3 linked regions of the Homo sapiens genome follow. The protein of the gene in region 3 interacts with the protein of the main gene of each other region in a pairwise test. Each region holds a gene or a part of one and is shown on either strand. Other genes may lie near its edges. The genes, in order: P4HA3, ACOT1 and ACOT8.

Region 1 (3,651 bases), on a different chromosome or scaffold from region 3:
AGTCACCAAGCCAAGCTGGATGTCAATGGGAAGAGGACATTTAATCCTCCCCCTAGGAAGTGTGCTAAATATTAACAAGAAAAAATGCACCTCTATAAGCATGTTGCCTCTTTAAAGATATTGTCTCAGAATTATTTCTGTCAAGCCAGACATTGTGCCCTTAACATGTGCAGTTCATCCAGGCAGCCATTAGTCATTCGTCAACAGAATAGAGCCCACTGTGTGCCAGACACTGGCCTGGGTGCTGGGCTTTTACAGTGAGATGAAGTATTGGTTCTTTCCTCTTGGAAACTTAGTGCACAATGGAGAAAAACAAATATTTACACTACACTATGATACATGCTATCATAGAGGTGTGGGCAGAGAGTTGTGCTATGCACATAAAAAAGCAAGGCTTCCTCTAAAGAAAAGGCAATTGGGTGAAGAAGAGATGGGGAAGGGAGGAAGAATCAGGGAAGGCTTCACTGTGGAGGTGACATCTATCAGAGAAAGAAGGTAGCAAAGGGTATTCCAGAAAGACAAAACAGTATGTGCAAGGGCCTGATATGTGGTATGTTCAGAGACTGGGCAGAAGCTTGGTGGCTGAAGTGTGCAAGGGATGGGGGCGAGAGGTGATAGGAAATGAAGCTAGATGTGAGACACCATTAGCAGATGCTATAAATGCCATGCCGGGGAGTTTGGATTTTATCCTGTAGGCAGCAGGAGAGCTGTTGGACAGTTTTAATGGGAGAGTTGCATGATCATGTCTGATTTTTAAGGAAGACTGTAACAGCAGACATGGATTGGAGGGAGAAGAGGGGCAATCATCATTTCATCTAAAAGCCCCTCCAGGAAAGTCTAGAATCTTTGCACAGAAGCTTTTTGAGATAATTAAGCCCCACTGGTGAATTGGAGCAAACAGGTTCAGCTTTGCAGTGAGCCAGCAGTAGTAGCTTTTGGCCAGCAGCTGCTTTTTCCTTATAACAGCCCTGTTGCCATGGTAACGGGAGAAGTGACCCACCCAGAGACGTTGATTTAAATGTTCATGGCCATGTCGTCCATTTAGCATGCACAGATCTTGGCACACTTCCTTCCCCTAGAAGTGTCTCTCTGGGGCTGCTGATGCCTGTCTGGTCTGTGGCTCTCCCAGGAATCAGCCCTGGACTGACATGGTAGTGGCTTCCCCATGGGAACTGAAGACAGATGCCTCAGTGGCTTGTGTTGAATATCTCTGCTTCCTAGTCACTGTCCCTTTCCCAAAGCACACTCACTCATCACTTCTCTCTCTCACCACATCCTGCCCATCTTTGAAGACTCAGTTGAAGCCCTGCACCTTCGCTGGGCCCGCTAGCCCTGATCATTCTGGCCTCCTTTGGTTCTTTTTCAGAGCACTTTTTGGAGCCATATACAATTACCTATTCCTCCTCTGAACTCTAAGCTTTTTCTCACTGGTTGTTTGGTACTTAATTTTTAAATGTATTCTGCCATTTATGTGTTGTTTGACATCACTGACAGTTTCCTGGGTCAGCATCCTGTCTCCCCAGTCAGACTGTAAACTAGCAGGCATCATCTTTCTGCAAATGCCTTGCCCCATGTTCTTCCCATTGCTGCCAGAGTAAATCTTTAAAAGGTCAGGTCTGACCACTCAAGCCCTTGCTGAAACTCTTCACTGGGTCACTTTTGCCTTTGAGTGCTTACAAGTCTCCATGGCCTGGCTGCTGCCAACCCCTTCTACCACATCTCCCCCGGCACTTGACGCTCCAGCTGCACACTCTTCTGTCTGCCTGGAACGAACTGCCCTTGACTTCTCACCTGTATGATTCCAGTGTGTCTTGTGGACATCCTGGAAAGACTCCCTGTCCCTCATAAGAATGGGCTATGTGTCCCTCTTTCTATTGCCATGGCATTCTATACTTGCCTATTATGGCCCCATTAGATGTCTTAGGGGCAGGGACATTGTCTGGATTAACATTGTTTTTCCAGTGCCTAGCACAGTGCTTAGCACAGAGAACAACCAATAAATATTTGTTCCAAAAAACGAGTGACTGGTAGGTAGACAATTAATGATTGTTACAGGAAATAAATATAAGGTGACTCCTTAATTTGGGATGGGGGGGATTCCTTAGGGTTTTTTTTTGTTTTTTTTTTTTAAACCATTGATTTTGCCCTAAAAGAACAGAAGGGAGCATCTCTCTTCTATGAGTTTCTCCTCTACAAATGGCTCAGGACAGGACACCAGGGACAATGGATGGAGGCAACATCAATCCCCTTCTGATTTCCTGCTTCCTAAGATTGTAGAGCCACATGTGAGAGGAACTCGCAAGCACATGTTGTTCATAAGCTGCATTTTATTTATTTTTTATTTTTTTGTCCCAAACTTTTATTATTATTATTATTATTATTATTATTATACTTTAAGTTTTAGGGTACATGTGCACATTGTGCAGGTTAGTTACATACGTATACATGTGCCATGCTGGTGCGCTGCACCCACTAACTCGTCATCTAGCATTAGGTATATCTCCCAATGCTATCCCTCCCACCTCCCTCCACCCCACAACAGTCCCCAGAGTATGATGTTCCCCTTCCTGTGTCCATGTGATCTCATTGTTCAATTCCCACCTATGAGTGAGAATATGTGGTGTTTGGTTTTTTGTTCTTGTGATAGCTTACTGAGAATGATGATTTCCAATTTCATCCATGTCCCTACAAAGGACATGAACTCATCATTTTTTATGGCTGCATAGTATTCCATGGTGTATATGTGCCACATTTTCTTAATCCAGTCTATCATTGTTGGACATTTAGGTTGGTTCCAAGTCTTTGCTATTGTGAATAATGCCGCAATAAACATACGTGTGCATGTGTCTTTATAGCAGCATGATTTGTAGTCCTTTGGGTATATACCCAGTAATGGGATGGCTGGGTCAAATGGTATTTCTAGTTCTAGATCCCTGAGGAATTGCCACACTGACTTCCACAATGGTTGAACTAGTTTACAGTCCCACCAACAGTGTAAAAGTGTTCCTATTTCTCCACATCCTCTCCAGCACCTGTTGTTTCCTGACTTTTTAATGATTGCCATTCTAACTGGTGTGAGATGGTAACTCATTGTGGTTTTGATTTGCATTTCTCTGATGGCCAGTAATGGTGAGCATTTTTTCATGTGTTTTTTGGCTGCATAAATGTCTTCTTTTGAGAAGTGTCTGTTCATGTCCTTCGCCCACTTTTTGATGGGGTTGTTTTTTTCTTGTAAATTTGTTTGAGTTCATTGTAGATTCTGGATATTAGCCCTTTGTCAGATGAGTAGGTTGCAAAAATTTTCTCCCATTTTGTAGGTTGCCTGTTCACTCTGATGGTAGTTTCTTTTGCTGTGCAGAATTTAGATGGGGAAACAGGCCCAAGGAAAGGAAGAGGCTTTTCCAAGACTGTCTATCTGGTTTAGCAGGAGGGACAATGACATTATGGAAGCTTCAGAGAAGGGAAAGAGCTTCTGTCTGTGTAGCTCATTGCCCCAGGCACTGCTCTGCCTGCCTGTGAAGCACCAGAGCTGGGTCTGAGCCCTGTGAGTACCTTTAAGGGCAGTGCCCTATTTCATTCATTTGTTTATTTAACCAGTACTAAGCACCTACTCCACCACCAGGTGTTGAATGGACCCTGGGGATACAGCAC
Region 2 (3,751 bases), on a different chromosome or scaffold from region 3:
ACTCACTGCTAGAAGGAGTCAACATATTCATCTGCTCTGGGCAACAATTTGTCTTAACTTACAAAGTTAAATATGTTATTCTACTTGTACATGTGCACCAGGAGGCATATTCCTTATAAGAGGAAAGCCATTGCAGATGAGCAGTCTGGATTAATTTAAAAAAAGAGCAAAGTCAACTGGAAACAGTCCAAATGTCCATCAACAATAGAACAGATTAATAAATTGAGGTATATTTCCAGCAGTCAAAGTGATTGAACTACAGCTAGAAGAATCAACATCTATCAAGATATACAAAAGAAAAGAAAAAAATAAAAAAGAATCAACATGGATGAATCTCCAAACCACTGTTGAGTGAAACAGTCAAACACTAGGAGAACACATTCAGTATCATTCCATTTAGATACAGTTCAAAAAATAGGCAAAATAAAATATTGTTTAAGGTACATAATCTAAGTGGTAATACTATGAAGAAAACCAAGAGTGATACACAGAAAGTCCAGGATACTGGAAAGAGAGGAAAGGGCACAGGGGTCTGTGGGACGTTGATGGTTTGCGGGTATCAGCACTGAACTATGTCTTAAAAGTGTTGCCTGTAAGGTGTTTGCATTCTTTTTTTTTTTTTTTTTTTGAGACAGTGTCTCGCTCTTTCGCCCAGGCTGGAGTAGTGGCACAATCTTGGCTCACTGCAACCTCCAACTCCCGGGTTCAAGCGATTCTCCTCCCTCAGCCTCCCGAGTAGCTGGGATTACAGGTGGCCGCCACCACACCCAGCTAATTTTTGTATTTTTAGTACAGATGGGGTTTCACCATGTTGGCCAGGCTGGTCTCGAACTCCTGACCTCAGGTGATCCACCCGTCTCAGCCTCCCAAAGTGCTGGGATTACAGGCGTGAGCCACCAGACCCAGCCTGCATTATTATTCTTTAATTTTGTGTGAAACACAAAACCTTTAATGTAAATGATAAAAATATTCAGTAAGTGGAGTCATTCAGAATGAGTAGCCTTTTGAGTCTGTCTCCATTGAATAAGTGCATTCTGTTGAGTGCACTGGAGAGGAATTTGTGCTCTTCTATGTAGCAGTCTTTCTTTTTGTTTCTTGGTGGTGCACCATTAAATGGATTCATTCACCAGTTAAAGGACATTTGGGTTGTTTCCAGTCTTTGGCTACAATGAATAAAGTCACTATAAACACTTGCCAGAAGTTTCTGGACGAACACAGGTTTTCATTTCTCGTGGGTAGATACCTAGGAGTGGGATTGCTGGGTCACATGTGTGGTAAGTATATGTTTAACTTGGTAAGAAACCATCCAACTGTTTCAGGAATAGCTTAGTTTTGCATTTTGTTTTGTTTCTTCCCAAGAACCTGGGCCCTTTCCTGGCATTGTGGACATGTTCGGAACTGGAGGTGGCCTGCTGGAGTATCGGGCTAGTCTGCTGGCTGGGAAGGGTTTTGCTGTGATGGCTCTGGCTTACTATAACTATGAAGACCTCCCCAAGACCATGGAGACGCTCCATCTGGAGTACTTTGAAGAAGCTGTGAACTACTTGCTCAGTCATCCTGAGGTGAGTTCTTCTCTCAGATTTATGGGCTATGATGTATCAGGTCTCTTCTTAAATGGTCTGGGTTTTCACAGAAGTTAGCTCATTCATGACAGCCATTCCCTACCCCAACACACACTACCTTTTTTAGTCACTTCTTATAGACAGTTTCTTTCTTTCTTCTTCTTCTTCTTTCTTTTTTTGAGATGGAGTCTCACTCTGTTGCCAGGCTGGAGTCCAGTGGTGCGATCTTGGCTCACTGCAACCTCCACCTCCCAAGTTCAAGTGATTCTTGTGCCCCAGCCTCCCAAGTAGCTGGGATTACAGGCACCTGCCAACATGCCTGGATAATTTTTGTATTTTCAGTAGAGACGGGGTTTCACAATATTTGTCAGGCTGGTCTTGAATTCCTGACCTCAAATGATCCACCTGCCTTGGCCTCCCCAGGTGCTGGATTACAGGCATGAGCCACTATGCCTAGCCTAATTTTTGTATTTTTTTTTTTTAGTAGAGATGGGGTTTCGCCATGTTGGCCAGGCTGGTCTCAAACTCCTGACCTCAAGTGATCTGCCCACCTCGGCCTCCCAGAGTGCTGGAATTACAGGCATGAGCCACCACACCTGGCCTCTTATAGACAGTTTCTATTCAATTCTATATTACTATATTTCCTGCTAGTAAAGATATTTGTAGTTGGTATTATGCAATTTTAAATTCCAGTATGTTTTTTCTTTCTTTTTTTTTTTTTTTTTTTAAGACGGAGTCTTGCCGTGTCAACGAGGCTGGAGTGCAGTGGCATGATCTCGGCTTACTGCAACCTCCACCTCCCAGGTTCAAGCGATTCTCCTGCCTCGGCCTCCTGAGTAGCTGGGACTACAGGCGCATGCCACTTCTGCCTGGCTAATTTTTGTATTTTTAGTAGAGACAGGGTTTCACCATATTGGCCAGGCTGGTCTCGAACTCCTGACCTCAAATGATCCACCCGCCTCAGCCTCCCAAACTGTTGGGATTACAGGCGTCAGCCACCACGCCCGGCCATGAGATGACGTACTTGTTGATGACGACTCAGTTTAGTTATGACAGTGGGAATGGGTGGCTCAGGTGGGAGACAGAAAAAGATCATGGGAGATAATGAGATTAAGGAACTGAGAAACCAGAGTAATTGATAGATCTTCCACATGGTTATCACCAAGAGTGGTGATGGACAAATTGTGGAAAGGAAGAGATAGAGGGGAGGTAAATTCCCAAAGCTGCAAATCTGGGTAAATGGTAGAACCCAGATTCAGACTCAGGTTCAACTAACTTCCAGGGTGGGCACAACTCACCATATTCCACTGTTTGTGGAGCCATTCTTCTTCTTTTTCCTTTGTCCCTTTCTCAGGTAAAAGGTCCAGGAGTTGGGCTGCTTGGAATTTCCAAAGGGGGTGAGCTCTGCCTTTCCATGGCCTCTTTCCTGAAGGGCATCACGGCTGCTGTCGTCATCAACGGCTCTGTGGCCAATGTTGGGGGAACCTTACGCTACAAGGGCGAGACCCTGCCCCCTGTGGGCGTCAACAGAAATCGCATCAAGGTGACCAAAGATGGCTATGCAGACATTGTGGATGTCCTGAACAGCCCTTTGGAAGGACCTGACCAGAAGAGCTTCATTCCTGTGGAAAGGGCAGAGAGCACCTTCCTGTTCCTGGTAGGTCAGGATGACCACAACTGGAAGAGTGAGTTCTATGCTAATGAGGCCTGTAAACGCTTGCAGGCCCATGGGAGGAGAAAGCCCCAGATCATCTGTTACCCAGAGACAGGGCACTATATTGAGCCTCCTTACTTCCCCCTGTGTCGGGCTTCCCTGCATGCCTTGGTGGGCAGTCCTATTATCTGGGGAGGGGAGCCCAGGGCTCATGCCATGGCTCAGGTGGATGCTTGGAAACAACTCCAGACTTTCTTCCACAAACACTTGGGTGGCCACGAGGGGACAATCCCATCAAAAGTGTAAATTTTATTTGATCATGTGGCCTCTCTGTTGCTAATCTCTCCTGGAAACATCTGCCACATTTAGTGTGTGTATGTGTATTCATTCTTTCTCATAACTTCTTAAAGTTTCTTCCCCTCATTATTAAAATGAATTTACCAGTAAGAATGAGTTTTTAAGATTTTTATAAACTGTATACTTTATCAGTTTGGGAAGGGAGTAACTGTAGGAAACACAAGAAGTGGAAAAAGTC
Region 3 (3,651 bases):
GCCCAGATGTCAGGGTTCCTCAAGGTCAGCCTGACTCAGACAAAGTGAGAACTTCAGGGAAACCAGGGAAGTTCTCTTCCTCTCCAAATCTTCCCTCACCTGCTTGTTGTTGGCTGCCTTATCCCTGGCCAGTGCCTTCTACTCTGGTGGTGGTGGTCTTGTTGTTTTTGAGACAAGGTCTTGCTCTGTCACCTAGGCTGGAGCACAGTGACGCAGTCATGGCTCACTGCAGCCTTGATCTCCTGGCCTCAAGTGATCCTTCCGCCTCAGCCTCTTGATTAGCTGGGACTATAGGCACATGCCACCATGTCCAGCTAATTTTTATTTTTTATTTTTTGTAGAAACAGGGTCTCCCTGTGTTGCCTAGGCTCTTCCACTCTGCTTTGGAGCAGAGACACCTGACAGTGAAGGACCAAATGGCTTCCATATACATCAGGGGTGAAGTGACTGACAGTGGCCCTTGCCTGGGAGAGGCTGAATATACAAACAGACAATGGCTAGACCATGTAGAAAAACAGAACTCTGACGCACAATAGCAGCAACCAGCACAGGAAGCCAGCCTACTATCCACAAGTCAGACTTGTAGGAAGTCAGACCACTATCTTTACCAACCAGTCCAGCAAGCCAAATAATGACCACTGTAACAATTGGCCTCCAAAGCCAGGACTTGATTAATAACTGATAGCTGCCCTAATTTTTGCCCCTGCTTCCAACTTAGGACCAACCGGAGAAAGCCAAATATGTACTCCTAACCAATCACATAGGATGTCCCACTCTTTTTTGAGACAGAGTTTCACTCTTGTTCCCCAGGCTGGAGTGCAGTGGTGCAATTTCGGCTCACTGCAGCCTCCACCTCCCAGGTTCAAGCAGTTCTCCTGCCATAGCCTCCACCTCCCAGCTTCAAGCAATTCTCCTGCTGCAGCCTCCCGAGTAGCTAGGATTACAGGTGTGTGCCACCAGGCCTGGCTAATTTTTTGTATTTTTAGTAGAGACAGGGTTTTGCCATGTTGGCCAGGCTGGTCTTGAACTCCTGGTCTCAGAAGATCTGCCCGCCTCAGCCTCCCAAAGTGTTGGGATTACAGGTGTGAGCCACCGTGCCCAGCCAGGTGTCATGCTTCTAGTTAGCCCACCAACAGCTTCCCCATGCCAACAGCCTGCAATGGGAGCATCCCTGAAGCCTTTTTTTCCACTACAGAGCATTCCCATTCCTTTGCCTGCCTCTAAGTCTCTGCCAAAAGCAAGTGATGGTGGTTGACTTCCTGCTACAACAAGCTCTGATTGGCTGGGCGCAGTGGCTCATGCCTGTAATCTCAACACTTTGGGAGGCCAAGGTGGGTGGATCAGTTGAGGTCAGGAGTTTGAGACCAGCCTGGGCAACACAGTGAAACCCCATCTCTACAAAAAATACAAAAATTTGTTGGGTGTAGCGGCGCACGCCTGTAGTCCCAGCTACTTAGGAGGCTGAGGCATGAGCATGGCTTGAACCTGGGAGGCAGAGGTTGCAGTGAGCCCAGATAGCGCCACTGCACTTCAGCCTCGGTGACCCAGCGAAACTGTCTCTCAAAAAAAAAAAAAAAATTAGCTGGGTATGGTCATGCACCCCTGTAGTCCCCCCCCACTCAGGAGGCTGAGTCACAGGAATCGCTTGAACCTGAGAGGTGGAGGTTGCAGTGAGCCGAGATTACACCACTGTACTCCAGCCTGGGTGACAGAGCAAGACTCCATCTCAAACAAACAAAAAAAAGAACAAGCGCTGAATAAATAGCCTTTGTTTGTTCTCAAAAAAGAAAACAACAACAGAATAAACAGTAAACAGGCTGCAGGCTAGATTTACTGCTCCCTGATCTAGAATAATGGTTTTGGACTGATGACAAGATCCCAGGCATAGATGGAGCAAGATAGAAGCAAGGAGTATTAATTTTATTTAACAAACACATATAGAGCCCTCACTATGTGCCAGATATTATTCTAAACACTTTACAACTACGGATTCATTTCATTATCATTAAAATCCTGTAAGCGATGAGCACCATGATGATCCCCAGTTTGCAAATAAGCACACTGCTCAGAGAAGTGAAGGGTCACACGGCTGGTGAGTGGTGGAGCCAGGATTTGAATGCAAGGAATCTGTCAATGTCTCTGCTGTTTGTGCTGTTAGAGAAAAGCTCCACCTGCACAGGGAGAAGCCTGATGACAGGGCCTGGTGGTCTCTGTATCCCTGGGCCTGGACCTTAGCAGACCTCAGTTAGTAGTCACTGAGATGAAATGGAATGGAAGATGAGTAGTAGAGTGCCTGTCAGGCGTTGTGATGATGACAGGGCCTGTGGACCCACTGTGTCCTTGTGCCCACTGCAGGGGACCCGAAGCTGCCAGTACTGTACCAAGTGGAGCGGACACGAACAGGGTCGAGCTTCTCGGTGCGCTCTGTGAAGGCCGTGCAACATGGGAAGCCCATCTTCATCTGCCAGGCCTCCTTCCAGCAGGCCCAGCCCAGCCCCATGCAGCACCAGTTCTCCATGCCCACTGTGCCACCACCAGAAGAGCTGCTTGACTGTGAGACCCTCATTGACCAGTATTTAAGGTGAGAGACCTGGAGGCTCCATGGCAGACTTTTCAAAATGCAGCTGCTATCTGTTTGTGGGTCATAGAATCCTTTAGTGGGTCTTGACCAGCATTTTTAAAATACAGATTAGAAAAGAAGATACTGGAGTGAATAATATGTATGTATTAAGGGCAAGAATCCTTTTGTGAAACTTGAGGTTTAGTCATGTGTGTTTCTGGTGTGTGTCTGTACTGGGTCATGGTATAAAATGAAGGGCTTGGCCGGGTGCAGTGGCGCATACCTATAATCCCAGCACTTTGGGAAGCCAAGGCAGGAGGATTGCTTGAGACCAGGAGTTGGATACTAGCCTCGCCAACATAGCAAGACTCCATCTCTAATTTAAAAATAAGGCTGGGGCTGGGTGTGGGGGCTCATACCTATAATAACACTTTGGGAAGCCCAAGTGGGAGGATCACCTGAGCCCAGGAGTTCAAGACCAGCCTGGGCAACATGGTGAAACCCTGTCTCTATAAAAAATACAAAAATTAGCCGGGTGTCGGGGCATGTGTCTGTAGTCCCAGCTACTTGGGAGGCTGAGGCGGGGGGATCACTTGAGCCTGGGAGGTGGAGGCTGCAGTGAGCCGAGATCGTGTTACTGTGCTCCAGCCTGGGCAACAAGAGCAAGACTCTGTCTGAAAAAAGAAAAAAAGAATATATATTTTGTTGTTGTTTATATATATACATGTTTGTTTGTTTTTGAGATGGAGTCTTGCTCTTGTTGCCCAGGCTGGAGTGCAGTGACACCATCTCGGCTCACTGCAGCCTCTGACTCCCAGACTCAAGTGATCCTCCCGCCTCAGCCTCCCAAGTAGCTGGGATTACAGGCACCTGCTACCATGCCCAGCTAATTTTGTATTTTTAGTAGAGATGGCGTTTCACCATGCTATCCAGGCTGGTCTCAAACTCTTGATCTCAGGTGATCCACCCACCTTGACCTCCTAAAGTGCTGGGATTATAGGCATGAGCCACCATACCTGGGAAAAAAAACCATATATATATTTTATATATATATGTATATAGAAATACTTCCGTAACCACTTGTTAAGTAC

What was found.
Region 1: the proteins of ACOT8 (region 3) and P4HA3 interact in binary tests that used the Homo sapiens proteins (3 or more experiments, as listed by UniProt).
Region 2: the proteins of ACOT8 (region 3) and ACOT1 come close enough for resonance energy transfer, tested with the Homo sapiens proteins (one large-scale study listed by BioGRID).

What each region holds. Positions count from the first base shown.
Region 1 is NC_000011.10:74,280,609-74,284,259, reverse strand, and holds part of P4HA3 (prolyl 4-hydroxylase subunit alpha-3 isoform 1 precursor), read left to right. Parts: intron 1-3,651. UniProt on the Homo sapiens protein: Catalyzes the post-translational formation of 4-hydroxyproline in -Xaa-Pro-Gly- sequences in collagens and other proteins.
Region 2 is NC_000014.9:73,540,134-73,543,884, forward strand, and holds the end of ACOT1 (acyl-coenzyme A thioesterase 1), read left to right. Parts: intron 1-1,153; exon of another isoform or gene 1,154-1,168; coding exon of another isoform or gene 1,169-1,274; intron 1,275-1,359; coding exon 1,360-1,562; intron 1,563-2,916; coding exon 2,917-3,522; 3' UTR 3,523-3,663; downstream 3,664-3,751. UniProt on the Homo sapiens protein: Catalyzes the hydrolysis of acyl-CoAs into free fatty acids and coenzyme A (CoASH), regulating their respective intracellular levels. More active towards saturated and unsaturated long chain fatty acyl-CoAs (C12-C20).
Region 3 is NC_000020.11:45,847,380-45,851,030, reverse strand, and holds part of ACOT8 (acyl-coenzyme A thioesterase 8), read left to right. Parts: intron 1-2,355; coding exon 2,356-2,581; intron 2,582-3,651. UniProt on the Homo sapiens protein: Catalyzes the hydrolysis of acyl-CoAs into free fatty acids and coenzyme A (CoASH), regulating their respective intracellular levels. Displays no strong substrate specificity with respect to the carboxylic acid moiety of Acyl-CoAs.